2 separate regions of the Homo sapiens genome follow, and region 1 is linked to region 2. Evidence: fine-mapped expression QTL. A gene starts in region 2. The other region holds a variant in brackets. All regions are shown on one strand. Distances are between the middles of the regions.

Region 1 (8,000 bases), 41 kb before region 2:
CTGTAGCTGCCACATCCCTTTTCCACCTTTATTAAGGTGCCTGCTATGGTTTGAATGTGTTGCCCGAAGTCCAAGTGCTGCAACTTGATCCCCAGTGCAACAGTATAAGCAGGGCCTAATAAAAGGTGTTTAGATCATGGGGCTCTGCTCTCATGGATGGGTTAATGCCATTACTGTGGAACTGGGTTCCTTATAAAAGGCCAGTTAGGTCCCCTCTTGATCTGTCTTGCCATTCCACTCTCCACCATGGGATGATGCAGCAAGAAGGCCCTTGCCAGAGCAGCCCCTTGATCTTGGACTTCCCAGCCTCCAGAACCATGAGCCAAATAAAATTCTATTCATTATAATATACTCAATCTGTGGTATTCTGTTACAGCAGCACAAAATGGACTAAGACAGAAAATTGGTGCCAAGAAGTGGAGAGGGGAGAGGAAAGCAGGGGAGGGGAGGGAAAGGAAGAAAAGAGAGAGAGAGCAGAGAGGAAAGAAGGAAGGGAGGGAGGGAGGCAGGCAGGCAATAAAGCGGGATTAGAAGATCTGTAGGGAAAGTCTGAAACTTCTTAGACTAAGTGGTTGTGATCAGAATGGTGGTAGAAATATCGATCGTGAAGGCCATTCTGATGAGGTCTCAGATATATCTGAAGATTAAGGTACTGGAAACTGGCATAACAGTCATCCTTGTTACAAAGCAGCAAAGAATGTGGCTACATTGTGTCCAGGTCCTCAAACTGTATAGCAGGCAGAACTTAAGAGTGATAAACTAGGCTATTTGGTGGAAGAAATACCTAAGCAGCAAAGCATTTTGGTTGCTGTATGACTTATTTTAACTGTATACTGTAAAACTTGAGAAGAAATAAATAATTTAAAGATGAAACTTATAAATAAAAGCAGGGTTGGGCGCAGTAGCTCACGTCTGTAATCCTAGCACTTTGGGAGGCTGAGGCGGGCGGATCATTTGAGGTCAGGAGTTCGAGACCAGCCTGGCTGACATGATGAAACCCCATCTCTACTAAAAATACAAAAAAATTAGCTGGGTGTGGTGGCACACACCTGAAATCCCAGCTATTAGGGAGGCTAAGGCAGGAGAATGGTTTGAACCCAGGAGACAGAAGTTGCAGTAAACTGAGATCGTGCCACTGAACTCCAGCCTGGGCAACAGAGTGAGACTCCATCTCAAAAAAAAAAAAAAAAAAAAAGAAGGAAAGAAAGAAAGAAATTTATAATGAAAAGCGAAACAGAACTTAGAGACTGGAAGGATTCTGAGACCGGCCCTGTAGTAGAGAATGAAAGAACTTTCAGGAGAGGAAAGCAAGGGTGCAGGCATGTTACCGTTTGATAGTTTAATAAGAATATTAGTATGGACCACTTGATAAGGAGATTAGTATTGGCCAGAGCCACAGTTTGATAAGGAGATTAGTACAATAAGAATGAAGCCAGAGGCTATTCATCAAGAAAATAAGAATGATCCCAAAGGTACTGCAGAGATGACCTGTGATCACAGCTCCGGCAGTGCCAAAATCTGAGGGAAGGAACTATGTCAAAAGCCAGGTCTTGGGAGCCCTCAGGACCTGTGGCTCACTGTCCAGGGCCACCTCAAGTCTCTGCTCCCACATTTGGGCACAGTGCTCCTCTGCCTCCCCAGCCATGGCTTAAATGGGCCCAGGTGCAGCTTGACCTACCATTCTAGAAGGTGCAAGTGGTGAGTCTTGGTGGCATCCCACATGGTCCTAATGCCACCAGAGTACAGAATGCAGGGGCTATGGGCCTGGCTCCCTCCAACTAGATTTCAAAGGATATTGCGGACAGACTCGGGACCCAGGCAGAGACTGGTTGCAGGGTCAGAGCCACCACCAGGGAGCCCCTGTAGGGCAATGCCCAGCAGAACTGTGGAGTCTGAGCTGCTGAGAGTCCCCAGGAAGCCTAGTGGAGCTGTGGGAGTAAGGCCATCCTGACACCCCAGAACTGCAGAGCTACCAGTGTGCAACAGCAACCTGGGGGAGCTGCAAGCATGAGACTCCAACCGGTGAGAGCTGCTGCATGGAATGAGCCCAGCAAGGCCAGGGAAGCAGGGCTGCCGGAGGCCTTGGGGGCCCAAGTCCCTACCCGAGTGTGTCTGGAAGGCAGGACATGGAGTCAAAGAAGATTATTGTCAAGTTGGGATTTGGTATTGTTCCCCCTGCTGGGTTCTGGAGTTGTCTGGACCAGTTGCCCCTTTCTTCTTGCCTATCTCTCCCTTTTGGAATGGAATATCTGTCCTATGCCTGTCCCATCACTGTACTTTGGAAGCAGACAACTTGCTTGATTTCACAGCCCATGACTGGAGGGGAATTTGATTCAGGATGAACCATACCTTGAGTTTTACCCACAGCTGACTTAGATGAGACTGTGGACTTTGGACTTTTAATGTGGTGCTGAAACAAATAAGAATTTGGGATTATAGGTAAGAAGCAAATGTATTCTACATGTGACAAGGACATCCATTTTGGGGACTGGGGCAGAATGCTATGGTTTGAATGTGTCCCTCAAAGTTCATGTGCTAGAAACTTGATCCTAAATGTTAACAATGTTGTGAGGTGGGGTCTCATAAGAGTAGGCCATGAGGGCTCTGTTCTCATGAATGGGTCAAGGGCTCTGTTCTCATGAATGGGTTTAATGCCATTATTACAGGAGTGGGTTCCTTATAAAAGGACAATTAGGCCCCTTCCTGCTCTCTCTCTCCACCTTGCCCTTCTTCCATCCACCATGAGACAATGCAGCAAGAAGACCCTCACCGGATGTGTCCTCTAGATCTTGGACATCCGAGCCTCCAGAACTGTGAGCCAAATAAACTTCTGCTCCTTATAAATTACCTACTTGGTGGTAATGGCAGCACAAAACAGACTAAGATAACATCCTAACCCTCCACATCCCGCTCGCTGGGACCATCCCACTCTGGTAATATCGGGCTGAAATGGTTCCTCTCCTACGAAGGCTTGACTTATACTTCCAAATGACTGATGTTTTGGTTCCCATGAGACGTTGTTTATACCTTAATTTCAGCACTTAGAGGTAACAAAATTTTATATTATACAAGGTTTTCATGTCTTGCCCACTATCCCATGACCTCTGAGATTGGAGACATTTTTATACCAAGAGCCCACCAGAGTTAAGTGTACTATAGAATATGCTTTATGGTACAATGTAACTTTGTGTTATATCATTCTGTGCTTTCCTAGCTTGCCTAAATGACCTCTGTGGTCAGGAACTTCTTTGTATCTCCAGATTCTATTAAACTGCCAAGAATGTAGCAGATGTTTTACAAACATCTGACAAATAAGTAATAACATGTGAATAAAGATGTATTGCATGTTCCACTAACAACTGAAATGTACTGCACGCTCAAAACGCGAAACCAGGATCTCTCAATCTCTGCACCACTGACTTGGAGGGGCCAGAGAGTTCACTGTTGCGGGGTCTGTCTTGTGTATTATGGGGTGTTTAGCAGCCATCTCTGGCCTCTACCTACTAGACACCAGTAGGAAATCCCTCTTCTCAGGTGTGACAAAGTGTTTCCAGACATTTCCAAATGCTGAGGACCACTGTGCTAGACACTTCTAAGGGCTGTGAAAGTGTTAAATATGATCTCGACCCTGTGAGTTCAACACGATAATTACCTCCATTGTAGAGCCAGGGAACTAAGGTGGGAAAGGGGTCAGTAACCGGCCCAGGTTGTACAGCTCGTGAGGAGTGGAGCTGGCACTGGAATTCTGGCTCCTTCAGCCAGAACCTCCACATCCTACGGCTTCTAAAACCATCCCGTGCAGACTGGCTCCCTAGACTCCACGATCCCCGGGATGTCCACCCCTGCCCTACACAGCAATTAGGGGAAGGGGTCTCAAGCACATCCAAGTCCTTCGAAGGCTCCGCACAGTGACGAAGAGCCTGTCGAGCCCCTTCTCAGCCACGCTTCCGCACGAGACACAGTCTCTAGCCCCCACAGCCCTGGTGCTCTCTGGAAGCTCTGCAGTACGTGTTCAAGGCACACAGCTGTATTCATGGGACCACTAATGCCTGCCAGCTGGACACCAGACTTCCATGAATCCGACCATTTTTTGCAGCCACATCCCACCACTGGCATGGACTGACTCTCTCCGCTGTAGGCCAGGTCTCCCGGGCTGCGGACTCCTCTGGCTTCCCTGCCGAACCTCAGCGCGGGCCTGGGCTGTACCTGCTTCCACACATTCCACAGCCTGTCCAGGAGTCAGTCTCCACAGTGTCTGCCAACCCACAGCGATTCCTCTCGGCTTAGTGTCCGCTGCCCACGTTCTAGAGGGGACTCAAGCTGGACTGTGCATTTGACGTCATTAATACAACTGCCAGGTACAGTGAGCGCAGGCTACGGGCTGGGGAGTTCTCCCACAGGGTTAGAATCCACCCGATCAACACTCGGATACAGACGGTCCGCTAATTGCAAGTGCCAAGAACAGACCGGTCATCTGTAAAACTCCTCCTCAGCCCCAAAACCCCATGGACTCTTCTCACTCACGGGGAGAGCCCGGGTCCTTGCTCTGA[T/C]GCACAGAGACACATGTGCTCTACTGGCCAGCACCTCCTCCCTCCTTGCCAACTCCTCCCAACACAGGCTGCCTGCGTTAGTCTGTTTTCGTGCTGCTGATAAAGACATGCACGAGACTGGGAAATTAATAAAGAAAAAGAAGTTTAATGGACTCACAGTTCCACGTGGCTGGGGAGGCCTGACAATCATGGCAGAAGAAAAAAAGTATATCTTACATGGCAGCAGGCAAGAAAGAAGGACAGCCACGTGAAAAGGGAAACCCCTCATAAAACCATCGGCTCACCTGACACTTACTACCAGGAGAACAACTTGGGGGAGAACACCACCATGATTCAATTATCTCCCACCAGGTCTCTCCCATGACACATGGGAATTATGGGAGCTACAATTCAATATGAGATTTGGGTGGGGACACAGCCAAACCGTATCACTGCCCAACCCACACCAGCCTCACCAGGTCTAGGGGGCTAGCTAGGCATGCTCCCTCCTCTGGGCCTTTGCGATTTATGCTCACTCAGTCTAGAATGCTTTTCTGTAGACATGGGCCTGGCTATCTCTCTCCGTCCAGCTCTTTACTCAGCTTCTCTACTTCCCAGCAACAACTCCACACACCCAACACTGCAGGCCCCCTCCCCTGCTTGCAAAGATGTTTCTCTTGTTTTGCTTGCTGCTGTATCACCCATGTTGACAATAGTGCCCGGCACCCAGCAGGCTCTCAATACAAACGTGTTGAATTAATAAATGGATCTGTTCATCAGATGGCATTGCCCCAGTGCAGGTGGAACAGAGTGGAAGAGGCAGTGACAGTAGGTCAGATATCTTCTGGCCCCTGTGGCACAGCCCCTGGCTGGACGCTGTAGCCTCACCCCATCATTGAACACTGTGATCACAGCACGCCTGGGCACGGGGAGGCTTCCTGGCTCATTAGAGTTGGCAGAGAGCACAGTGAGTAACTGACCAGCTAACTGCCTCAGGGTCATGCATGGGAGGATGGAAACATCTCTCAAGCTGTCTGACCTTAGAGGGAAAGGAGCCAGACAGGCTTCCACCTACAGCAAAAGAAGACTCTCTGTTCCCACCCTCGGGCTCCACAGGCTACCCACCCACCCCCCACCATCCGCCCCTGCAGCCTGGCACTGCAGACTCCTGTACAGAAACATTGTATCACCCGTTTATCAGCTGCCAGTCACAAGACACCAACCACTTGAAAATCATACCCAGGGCAGGGCCCCGTGCCTCATGCCAGTAATCCCAGCACTTTGAGAGGCCGAGGAGGGCAGATTGCTTGAGCTCAGGAGTTCAAGAACAGCCTGGGCATCATGGTGAAACCCCATCTCTATAAAAAATACAAAAATTAGCCGGGCATGGTGGCATGTGCTTGTAATCCCAATTACTTCAGAGGCTGAGGTGGGAGGATCACTTGAGCCCGGGAGGTGGAGGCTGCAGTGAGCTGAGATCAGGCTACTACACTCCAGACCAAGTCAGATCCTGTCTCAAACAAAAAGAAAAGAAAAAAGAAAATCATATCCTGGTGCCTGCCTGAGAGGGGCAGAGGCTTTGAATTCCCTTCTCAGGGTGAAAAAGCTGAAGCCACTGTGACGAGGTGGGAGTCAAGAGAGCAGGGCCAGGCCCAGGATACAGGAGAAATCCAGGGCCTGTGTGGACCTGCCCCAGGTCCTGGTCAGGGGCTCCCGGGCGCTCCTCCCTCCCAGGAGAAGCAATGCACCCACCCCAAGGATCTAAAGCCAAAGGTACCAGTGTCTGGGGCTGGAATCTGGCTTCCCACCAGCACAGCCAATCCCCTGCTTCCAGCACAGCCAGTGCCCTGCCTCCCCTGACCCCAGATGCCTGCTGTGAGAATGGTGGACTGCACCAGCCCCACCACATCCCACTTGGTCACCCCAGTCCCAGGCCACTGAGTATTTGCAATGGGGCCAGTCCACACTGACATGTGCTTTAAGTGGAAAATACACACCGGATTTCAAAGATTTAGTACCCCAAAAAAAGAATAAAATATCACCTTCATTATTTTATGCTCATCCCATGTTGAAATGCCAAGATTTTGGCTATATTGGGTTAAAATATTAAAACGAATTTCACCTATTTTTACTTTTTAAAACCGTGGCTAAATTTAAATGTTTTAAAAGTAATTTAAAATTACATGTGGCTTGTATTTCTGGCTCCCATTCTATTTTGACCGGACACTGTTGGGCTAGAAAATCTCCAGGATTCCTGCTAGCTCACACTTCCTATGACCTGAAGACGGTGGTGTCCACCCTCAAGTGCCTACTGGAAGCACCAGGAGAGTTTATTAAGCTTCATCGGCTCCCAAGGCTCCACTTCAGAAAGGCTAAATTAGGAGGGCTGAGATGCCTGTGGAGGGGTCCCGCTTATTCTGACTCGTTTGACTCTGATGTGCAGTCAAAGCACATCAAAGTCAAAAAGACCTCACTCTCCCCGTCCCCATCCCCCTCCTCCTGAGCCATCTGGGCCCTGGGTATGGAAACACATTCAAGGTGACATTGCTCCCCCGGCCCACACAATCACCTCTACTCTGCCTAAACCCAACCTCTTCTGGACCCCCTGATATCCTGCCCCAGTGCCTGCAAGGGGCGGGCCACCCAGCTACCCACCTCACATACCTTGCCAGCCCACGCAGTTGGGCAGCCATGTTTGAGTTAGCAAGCAGGTCAGATGAAACTGGTTCACCTGAGCCTTCTCTCCTCTGGCCAAGACCTGTGCCCTAGGCACTGGCTACCGAGACTAAACCCTGTCTCTGCTACTTGCAAGGCATGTGACTGCAGACTCTGCCCCGTCTCTATAAAAATAAAAATAAAATTAGCCGGGTGTGGTGGCACACACCTGTAGTCCTAGATACTTGGGAGGCTGAGACAGGAGGACCCCCTGAGTCCAGGAGATCGAGGCTGCAGTAAGCTATGATCGTCCCCCTGCACTCTAGCCTGTCTCAAAAAAAAAAAAAAAAAAGAACAGGAGTTGGTCGTGTTACAAATGTTGAGAGATCTGGAATCAGTGGTTGGGACCCAAGCCCAGACCTCTCTTCCGGCCTCCTCTCCTCCCAGCCACAGTTTCCTCCCTGCATGGGGTTCAGACCACCCAGTCCAGAGAAGCTTCCTCACTCCCCCACATCCAGCTCTGTCACATCATGCTGCTTTATTAACTTTGTGGCAGTTAAACCACACTGTCCCAAGTACCAATTAGACCACGCACTCCCAGCAAGCAGGGACTTCTTATGTCCCATAGTATCTCCAGCACTAAATTTAATGCCTGACACATGGTAGATAACTGACAAATATTTAAATGAATGGAGGTCTGAATTCATCAGCAAACAATAAGATGACTGTGAGCAGCAAGTTGCATCAAGTTAAAACAAGCCAGGCTTATTCTGAAAAGACCTGGGCATCTAAGGCACAAGGGGCTTGCTAGAAGCT
Region 2 (9,801 bases):
TCGCCTGCCCAGAACTCCGCGGATCCCTCAGCCTCTGCCCTCGTCAGTCCCTTGCATGACTTCCCTCCAAATGATCAGAACCCAGTGGGAACCCAGGGTATACCCCGGCTGGCCCCTAATTCTCTCCTGCCAGGAATCCCTCCTCCCAACCTGAGCAACCTCTAAGAGACAGGGAGGGCTGCCGGTGCGGAGCTTGTCTGTGGGCAAAACAGCTCACCATGTTGGAAGGAGAATTGGGTCTTTGGGAGCCTCTCTGGCCTTGAGCCAGCCCAGGACGGGCATCAAGGAGGGCCAGGCAGCCAAGGTGCTTCTGCCTGGCAGGAATCAGGATGCCAGACGCCAGGAGCAGCCACTTTGGCTGGGTTCCCTGTGCTTAGACCCCATAGGGCCCCTCCCCTTCCCCACGTGTGGCCGTGGTTGCCTTGCAGCCATGTGGGCGGCAGCCACATTTCCAAAGGAATAGGAGCTGCAGGCAGGCCAGATGGAAGCAATTGCCAAGGGAAAGCAGCAGAGGTGGGGGCTGGGGAGGCTGGGAGGGCCCACGGGGAAGGAGGGAAGGAGGGAAGGAGGGAAGGAGGGAGGGAGAAGAACCTTGTCCTGCCCCGCCCCGCCCAGCTGAGAAAGCGGACAAGCGTGTGCTCAGGGTACGGCCCGGCCGGGATGTGGGGTTCGGGAGAGCACTCAGAGGTCAGGGTTTGTGTTCCACCTTTGACACTAATACACTGTGGCCTTGAGCAAACCCCTTCACGCCTTTGAGCTGGGATCTGTTTCTTCATGGGGCAAAATGAGCAAACTCCAGGGGGCAGTTGAGAACTGGGCTGAAAAGTGAAGGTTTTGGAAGCAAGCCTGGATTTGAGTCCTAGCTCAGCTGCTTACGAGCTGTATGACCTTGGCCAAGTAACTTAATCCTTCAATCCTCCATTTCTTCATTTATAAATGGGCTTAATTACAGGGTTGTGTGAAGCTCACATGAAGGGACGTAAAGTGTCTAGCACATCTTTTTTTTTTTTTTAAGTTTATTGGGCCAGGCTTTTAATAAGTGCCTGATTGCTAAATGGTAATATTTTTGTTATTTGCTGAGGCCATTTTCATTATGGGGACAGATGTACAGATGTTCACCCATGCTGCAGTTGGCAGAGGACGCAGAGCACAAGTAGGGTCGCTGCAGACCAGCATTCCTTAGCACTCTCCAAACTGGTCCCAGCACTCTTTGGGGCTGCCTCCCCTAAACAGGAAAGCAAGATCCTGAGGACCCCAACCCCCATGCACAGGCTTGAATGAGCTGCAGGTGGGACAAAGGAACTCTCCTACTCAGGTGCTTCTGGGCTTCTGCAGCCAGGCCAGGCCTTCCTCACAATCAAGGCCCAGGTGGGAAACTGGAGGCCCAGCCAGACCCACACCTCACTTCAGCCCGAGCAGCAGCAACCTCCTCCCTGCTGGGCCAGCAGTGGCACCCAGGGCTTCAGTATAGGCAATCCTACCATCTTATCACATCCTATCACAGGGCAGTGTGGGGTACAGGGGAACAGAGATGGGGTTGTGGCCAGGCTGTAGGTCCCAGGTAAAGGGCTCAGCCAACACTAAAAACCCACAGCTCTGGACACCCACACCCTCTAACCCCGAAATGCAACAACCCAAGCAACCTTTGGGGGAATTCAGCCCCTGCAGGGCTCAGGGGCTCCAGTCAGAAAGCTGACCAGCACTTGGCTAGGGCCTGGGCATCGCACGCTGCTGCTCTCACGTGAAGCTACACTGACCACTTCCTCAGTCTGTAGAATAAAGGACATCATTCACACACCTCCCTCCCCGAAATGTGGCAGGGGTTGGGGTGATTCTGAGGCCAGGGACAGCCAGTAGTCCATCCAGGGCCACTCAGGACACTCATACAGAAGCCTCTGGGAAGGGGGCAACAAAGAAGAGGGGGTTAATAACAAGAGTCACCCAAATCTGCCTACACTCACCATTTCCTCCCGGCAACCAAAAGCTTCAGGTCAAGGTCGTGGGTCTTGAGTAGGAAGGAGGATCCCAGCGTGAGGGAAACACGGAGCGGGAGCTAAACCACCAGCAGGGGCCTGTTGCAGGGAAACGTCCAGCCGGCCCAGTGCGACTGAACTGAGGGGGCAGGAAGCAGGGGCTGTTTGCTCGGGGTGTCCCACCCTGCACTGCTGGACTGCCCCGCTCTCCAGCATCTAAGGTCCATCTCCGAGGGGCCAGGAGCTGGGCTAGGCTCTAGCGGCTGCCTTGATGGCAATCTGTAGGCTTGGACTTCAGACCCCACTTGGGGCCCAAGCTCCCTCTCCATCCCCTGCAGGCCCCCCAGCCAGCTCCTTTCCCTATCGGCCCAGGGTCTGGAACTTGGCAGGCACGGAAACATTTGTATTAGTCCAAGATAGAGGGATCCCTTCCCTCCAACAGATGGTGCAAACCTTTGAGCCATTCTGAGAAGAATTCCCAATTCCATTGGGACAACCCCAGGAGCAGCCTCTCTGAGGAGAGACCCAGAGAACGTGCCCAAGTCAGACCTGGGGTAGCCCCCAAAGCAAGGGCAGATGGTGGCCAGTGGGGAGTTAGGACAGAATGACAGCTCAAGATGGAGCACAGAAAGGGGGTTTGGTCTCTCTGCTCCTGCTGGGGAAGGGAGCCCTTTCCAGGATTAAAAGTCCAGAAAGGAGCAGATTCTTAGTTCTATCCAGAAAACCGGATTCTAGGAGTCTAACGAGGTTGGGAGGCTGGCGGGGGCACGGCACTCTCTTCCTGAGAAGCAGAGGGCCAGTCACTGCTTCCCGTAGGGAAGGCAGCCCAGAGGCACCTCAGCCTGGGCCGCCAGCTCACAGAGAAGGCGGCCCTGTTGTCTCTGAACAACAACCCATCCCCAAGCTAAAGACACCCACTCTGCCCAAAGTCCAAGCTGGCAATTTCCAATTCACTCTTCTAACTCTTCCTTCCATGTGCACCCTCACAACCTCGGTTACCATCTTGGAGTCTGGGGGATCTGGCCCCAACTCCTGGCAAGCTCCCCATGTCTTGACAGAGCCCAGGGCCCATGGGGCAGCTTAGGATCACCCACCCAGCGCAATGGGGCCAGGCACAGGAGCAGTCTGGGAGTGGGCCAGGAGCAGGGCAGGGAACGGTCAAGGGGCATTCCCAGACCAGCTCTCAGCAAGCAAAACAACCTCCCGAGTTCATTTCTAGGCCCCAAACAGCGGGCACGTCCCCGGAACCCACTCTAGAATTATCGGGCAGCTTTGGAGAGTAACAGCATGGGAGAAATATTACCAATAGTGAATATTTATACAGCTCTCCCTCCGTGCAGGCGCCTTTCAAAGCACTTAGCATATATCAACTCATTTAAAATCCCCCTGGCAGATGCCAGGGCCAGGACCTAGAGGAGGTGGAGTCTGTAGGACGGGTCCGGCACAGCTCAGGAGACAGTGACACGGGTGTGTGTCTCTTGTGAGAACTCAGCCTGTACCAGGCCTGTTCCCAAAGTTCAAAAAGAATGAGTCCGCCTGAGCCTGGCTTCCACGCGGTACCCGCCTCCGGCGGTGGAAAGTACAGGCTTCCCCAAGAGGCCTGTGGGGGGTGCCAGCTTGTGGGTGGCCATGAGGTCAGACAGGGCACAGCTGGGCACCCGAACACTGCCTACACTCCCAGCCTTCTGGCAGCAGTTCCCTTAAGCCAGGCCCTCAGGACCCAGGCTGGGGAGCAGAGGAAGCAGCCACAGTAGGTCAGGCCTCAAGCTGCCCAGACAGAGCCTCCCCCCAGGACTGGGAATGGAGGGGCAGTGCTGGCAGACATGTTGGCAGTTCTGGGCTGGCCGGGAGGTCCCTGCCAGCCAGGTCCCCGAGGAAACACCCACAGCAGACAGCTGAGCCCACTCCCCCCATCGCATCCCTCCCACTGCTCACCACCCATGCAGCCCTGAGGCACAGTGGCCTAGGCCTGACGACCCCCATAACGTGGCCCTAGGACCCTGGGCACAGCCGGCCTCCCACTGACAACTCCACCTTTGGGTCCTGCTCAGCGACCTTGCGACTCCTGCACACAGGCGGACCCCGCAAAGCCTGTCACCTCCAGCACAGTCAGCTCCCAAGTGCTGGACCTGACCGGGGTAGTTGTGGGAGAAACCATCGCTCGAGGATGCTGGAGGTGGGGGCCGCCGCTTCAGTCCGGGCGCAGGGCTGGGGGATTGGGGGCGGAAACTTTCCGCAGAACTGTCCCGCTTGCTCACTCCAAGGGAACGGAGAGGATCCGGCTTCCCGCGAAAATCTGGTCCAGGGAAAGGGACCCCGGAAAGCAGCTCCGCAGGGCTGTGGCAGCCCCACCCCGACCCGCGCTGCGCCCACGTGCAGGGCCCGACCCCCTCCGGGAGGCGCGGCGCCGGCTGGGGTCAGGCGGCCGAGGACCCCGCGGCTCCCCGCCCCGCCCCGCCCCGCGGGCCCCCGCGCACCGCCGCCGCGTACTCACCCTCACGGGTGGAGCGGGGCGGGGCAGCACGGTTCCGCGCGCAGCTCCGATCCGCTAGGCGCACCGACCGGCGGCGCAGCGCTGGCGCGACGGCTCGACTCGGCCGGGTCCCTGTCCCGGGCGCGGGTCCGGCCTGGGAGCGGGCGAGTCCGCCTGCAGGGGAGGCGGGGACCCGGGCCCGGGTTGGGGGCGGGGAAGGGGCTGGACACGCTTGCGCACACGGCGGCCCGACTCCCAGGAGCTCCCGGGAGGGGTAGAAAGGGCGGGGTGGAGGAGGGGGAAGGGCGGGGGTGATGCCGCGCGGTCGCAGGCTTGGGATGGTGTTCGCGCCTCCGAGACCCGGACAGAGGCAAGCAGGGGCGCCGTGGGTGCCAGAGAGGCGGAAGAGGAGGCCTGATGGGGTGAGCACAGGGCCAGGGCAGGCACTGCCTGTGAATGGCGCCAGGGTGGGTATGCCCAGCGCAGCCAAGGCGCTCGCTCCCGGGAACAATGAGAATCAAGAAAGGGTGCAGTGCTCTATCCCACGGGGAACGGTGTCCTTCCCTCACTGGGGAAACTGGGGCAGGGTCCTGTTCCGGGAGCCTATGCTTCCCGTGCCCCATGCACGCAAGGCAGCCAGTCAGTCCCCTGGGCCCAGACGTGGGCCCTTCCTCTGCTTCGGTTGGGGCCTGCTGCCCCTAAACTGCTCTCTCTGCACCCCTCACTTGCATACTCTTTATCTTGGCCTCAGAAAGTTTCTCAGTTTCCTTTCCGTTATTGAAGGCGCCAGGCATCCTGTCTCCAGGAAGAAACCCCTGGGCCCCTGACCCTGGTTCTTTGGACCCAGGCATCCCCCCAAATAAACCTGGGAACTGCCCAGGCTGAAGAACAGTTCAGAAGTCACCCTACAGGACAATCCACAGCCCCTTAGGCCAGTCCCTTTCACAGGTCAGCACAGTGTTTCCGGAGCCCCACGTATCAACAGCCCAGTGCCGGGAGCGCCAGGGGCTCCAAGGAAACTATCAGACCCATTCCCTGTCCCCAGGAAGCTTACCATCCAGCGGCACAGAGAAGGCTCACCATGGACTCCATTCAAGAACGAGGCAGGATAGGATGTGAATAAGTGCAAGGTGTGAGTGACTGACAGTAAGTGCAAGGGGGTTCAGAGAAGTGGCAGCTCCAAGCCTGCTTCTGCTGAAGCTGGAGGGCTTATCTGTCAAGAACCCCCAACTCAGGAAGCTCTGCTCCAAGTGAGCTGAGTAAGGAGAGTCTGCCTCCAAGTTGTTCCTCTGCAGGTGACTGTGCTCCATGCTAAATCATTCCTTGCACGGGCAGAAGCTGTTTGGCATTGCACCAGTGTCTGATTTTGTTTGAATATGGTGCCTTTGGCTTAATCAGTCAGACATGCATTCAACAACTATTTATTTATTTATTTATTTATTTATTTATTTATTATTTTGAGACAGAGTCTCGCTCTGTCGCCAGGCTGGAGTGCACTGGCGTGATCTTGGCTCACTGCAACCTCTGCCTCCCGGGTTCAAGTGATTCTCCTGCCTCAGCCTCCCGAGTAGCTGGGACTACAGGCGCGTGCCACCATGCCCAGCTAATTTTTGTATTTTTAGTAGAGACGAGGTTTCACCATGCTGGCCAGGATGGTCTCGATCTCTTGACCTTATGATCCGCCCGCCTCGGCCTCCCAAAGTGTTGGGATTACAGGCGTGAGCCATTCAACAACTATTTATTGCATGCCATCTCCAGGCCTGGAATTAAGCTGGGTATAAAGAACACAATGACTAAGTCCCTGCCTCGGGCAAGTCGAGGAAGAGGGAAGAGCCTCCTTGTTCTACAGATGGGAAGACTGGCCCAAAGGGAGTAAGCAGCTGCCCTTCATAACTAAGTGAATCTGACAGAACTGATCCAAGCGTCAGCCCAGCCTCTAAACTTGGCCATTTGATGAACTAGATCTAAGCACAGTTTGCAGTTCTTGCCGTGAATCACGTAAATGTCACTCTACCAGAAAATGGAACTTAAGAACCAGCATTTGTTCCTGGAGACCTGAGTTCCAACTCTTGTCTCTGCCACTAAATAGCTTTAGTTTTCTTACTGGGGTGGGGGGAGGGGAAAGGAAATAACTGCTTATTCAAAGGGCTATTGTTGGCATTAAATCAGGCAATGGATGCGAATTTGGTCTGAAAGCATAACCTGCTATATATAAGTGTGTGCTGTTACTATGCAGGTGGCGTGCCTTTTCTAACCTATAAGCTGTATTCAGGCCTCTCCCCCAGCTTATCCCAAGCCTGGTTACTAGGTGCCCAGAAGCTAACCGTAATTCTGCTCCCCTCAGGTTAGGCCACAATGTGCTTACTCATGATGATCTTTTCCCTCCAGTTTCTTAACAGCATGGCCACAAGCTTAGCTCACTGCCTAGAAGCCATGTCATCTTTGGGGCAGGAGGGAAGCAATTCTGGTGCCTTTCTCCTCTTCTCTTCTCTCTTTTTCTTTCTTTCTTTTCTTCCTTCCTTCTTTCCTTCCTTCCTTTCTCTCTCTTCTTGTCTTTCCATCTTTCCTTCTCCTCTTCTTTCTTTTTCTTTCTTTCCTTTCTTCCTTCCTTCTTTCCTTCCTTCCTTTCTCTCTCTTTTTCTTGTCTTTCCATCTTTCTTTCTCCTCTTCTTTCTTTTTCTTTCCTTTCTTCCTTCCTTCTTTCCTTCCTTCCTTTCTCTCTCTTTTCTTGTCTTTCCATCTTTCCTTCTCCTCTTCTCTTTTTCTTTCTTTTTCTTCCTTCTTTCCTTCCTTGCTTTCTCTCTCTCTCTTCTTGTCTTTCCATCTTTCCTTCTCTTCTCTTTTTCTTTCTTTCCTTTCTTCCTTCCTTCTTTCCTTCGTTCCTTTCTCTCTCTCTTTTCTTGTCTTTCCATCTTTCCTTCTCCTCTTCTCTTTTCTTTCCTTTCTTCCTTCTTTCCTTCCTTCCTTTCTCTCTCTTTTCTTGTCTTTCCATCTTTCCTTCTCCTCTTCTTTCTTTTTCTTTCTTTTTTTTTCTTCCTTCCTTCTTTCCTTCCTTCCTCTCTCTCTCTCTTTTCTTGTCTTTCCATCTTTCCTTCTCCTCTTCTCTCCTCTCTCCTCTCCATGTGCTTTTTTGGCCCCAGGCCCCCCTTTGGTGCAACTACAACACATGATGAGCGGCTCAGCAAGAGGCAGTAGGATGGGATAAGCAGGGCTTTGGCCCATGGGGACTGTTTCTTTTGGATGTTAACTGTGCCAAAGTGGGACCAAGGCAACCAGAGGAACAACAGGTCTTAGTCCCCTTCCAAGCCATCAGTGCTGCCTCCATTCCCATTTCCTTTGCCTCCCAAACTCTCCTGTGTTTCTGCTTGGTGGAAGTGGCAGGACACCTCTGTGCTGGGGCAACCAGAGGGGCCTCAGGAGCAGAGGGAGGAGCAGGTGCATCTAGATCTGGGAAGCCCTGGCCCTGCGGCCCCTCTCTGGCAGGAGTGGGTGTGAGCAGCAGCGTGGAACAGCTCCTGTATCATGTGCCACGTTAGCATCCTGCCCACCAAGAGGAGGAAACAGCAAGATGTGTTTGAGGAAGAAATATACCCCATCCAGCATCTCAGATGATTTTAAAAATAGCAACTCCAGGATGGTATTTCAGCTCCTATTTTTATCAGATTTATATGGCTGGACCATGGAGCTGAGCTGTTCCCAGGGTTCTCAGTAGCAAGGGACATCACTCTTGTAGTGTTAGCTGAAATGCATTCCAGGAACCTGTAGGCTGAAAGAGATCCTGAGAAGTCATTGCACACAGCCCCTGCCTCTGTTTAGGACCACAGTCAGTTAACCACCAAAAGTTTACGGCTTTTTTCCTTGAAACCTCTTGGTTGGCCAGGAGTGTTGGCTCATGCCCGTAATCTCAGCACTTTGGGAGGCCGAGGTGGGTGGATCACCAGAAGTCGGAATTTCGAGACCAGCCTGGCCAACATGGTGAAACCCCATCTCTACTAAAAACACAAAAATTAACTGGGCGTGGTAGTGGGTGCCTGTAATCCCAGCTACTCAGGAGGCTGAGGCAGGAGAATCACTTGAACCCGGGAGGCGGAGGTTGCAGTGAGCCGAGATTGAGCCACTGCACTCCAGCCTGGCAACAGAGTGAGACTGTCTCAAAAAGTAAATAAATAGAAACTCTTGGTTCCATGCGTAGTCTAGCATTTTGTAGCACTTCTAATCACGAAGTTATTTTTAATATTTGTTTGGTCTGTTATACAAAATGTAGACTGGATGGCTTATAAACTACAGAAATCTCTCACAGTTCTGTAGGCTAGAAAGTCTAAGATGAAGATGCCAGCAGCCTGCTTCCTGGTTCATACAAGGTCATCTTCTCACTGTAACCTCACAGTGAGAGGAAGGGCCTAGGGGTGACTCTGGGATCTCTTTTATGAGGCACTAATCCCATTAATGGGGGCCCCCCACCCTCATGGCCTAATCACCTCCCAAAGGCCCCACGATTGCCTTGGGTGTTAGGATTTCCACATATGAATTTTAGGGGAACACAGACGTTCAGGCCATAGCAAATATCTTGCCCAAATATCTCTAGTTCCATCCTTTTGGTCACTCTCAGACCAGAACATTTACTGAGTGATTACTATGTCCCACAAAATTCTTATTTAACCCTCAGAAAAACCGTCTGGGGGAAGCATTGTTATCACTCCTATTTCATGAGCAGTTATGTAACTTGCCCCAGATAAGACTTGGTTATGGCACAGATTCTGTGTTGGAGCCTTCAGACCACTCTACTTCCCAAGCAGGGGAGGAACAGAACATTAAAGATTTTCTTGGCCTTGGCTTTCATTTCTTCATCGTGGTTCTGAAAGGAAAATTGGCTACAGTCTTAAATGTATGTGTGGGCCCACGCTAGAAGCTCAGCTCTCAGTGCCAGCCACACTGAGCCCTGGTCTCCCTAACTTCCGGGCCTTTACTCTGCTTGTCATTGGGCTGATAACCAAGATCCAGCCTAGAGCACAAGAAGACAAACGCTGCGTGATCTCGTGTGTAGAACCTAACAAAGTGGAACTCACAGAAGCAGAGAGTAGAATGGTGGTTGCCTGTTGGAATGGGGAGATGGTCAGAGAATGCAAACTTTCAGTTGGATGGGAGGAAGAAGTTCCAGAGATCTATTGTGCCACATGGTGACAATAGTTAATAACAATGTACTGGGCGGGGGGTGGTGGCCTACGCCTGTAATCCCAGCACTTTGGGAAGCTGAGGCAGACAGATCACTTGAGGTCAGGAGTTCTAGACCAGCTTGTCCAACATGGTGAAACCCCGTCTCTACTATAAAACTACAAAATTAGCCAGGTGTGGTGG

The links. PIP is the estimated chance that this variant, and not a neighbour inherited with it, causes the effect.
Region 1: its variant is fine-mapped to the expression of ST3GAL4 in visceral fat (GTEx, PIP above 0.99).

Annotation. Positions count from the first base shown.
Region 1 is chr11:126,392,497-126,400,496 of GRCh38, reverse strand. All of the region lies in intron 1 of ST3GAL4 (ST3 beta-galactoside alpha-2,3-sialyltransferase 4), which reads right to left. Among named protein-coding and RNA genes, the nearest start is that of ST3GAL4, 41 kb to the right of the region's middle. RefSeq lists an enhancer at 5,842-6,769. The variant T/C (reference allele first, on the strand shown) is at 4,551.
Region 2 is chr11:126,350,509-126,360,309 of GRCh38, reverse strand. It overlaps ST3GAL4 (ST3 beta-galactoside alpha-2,3-sialyltransferase 4), which reads right to left and starts at 4,624. Exons shown (of 11, transcript NM_001254757.2): 1 at 4,468-4,624. It overlaps GSEC (G-quadruplex forming sequence containing lncRNA), which reads left to right and starts at 4,723. Exons shown (of 2, transcript NR_033839.1): 1 at 4,723-4,868. RefSeq lists enhancers at 1,275-2,016, 3,666-3,815, 3,503-4,246, 4,247-4,988, 4,989-5,732 and a silencer at 4,406-4,785.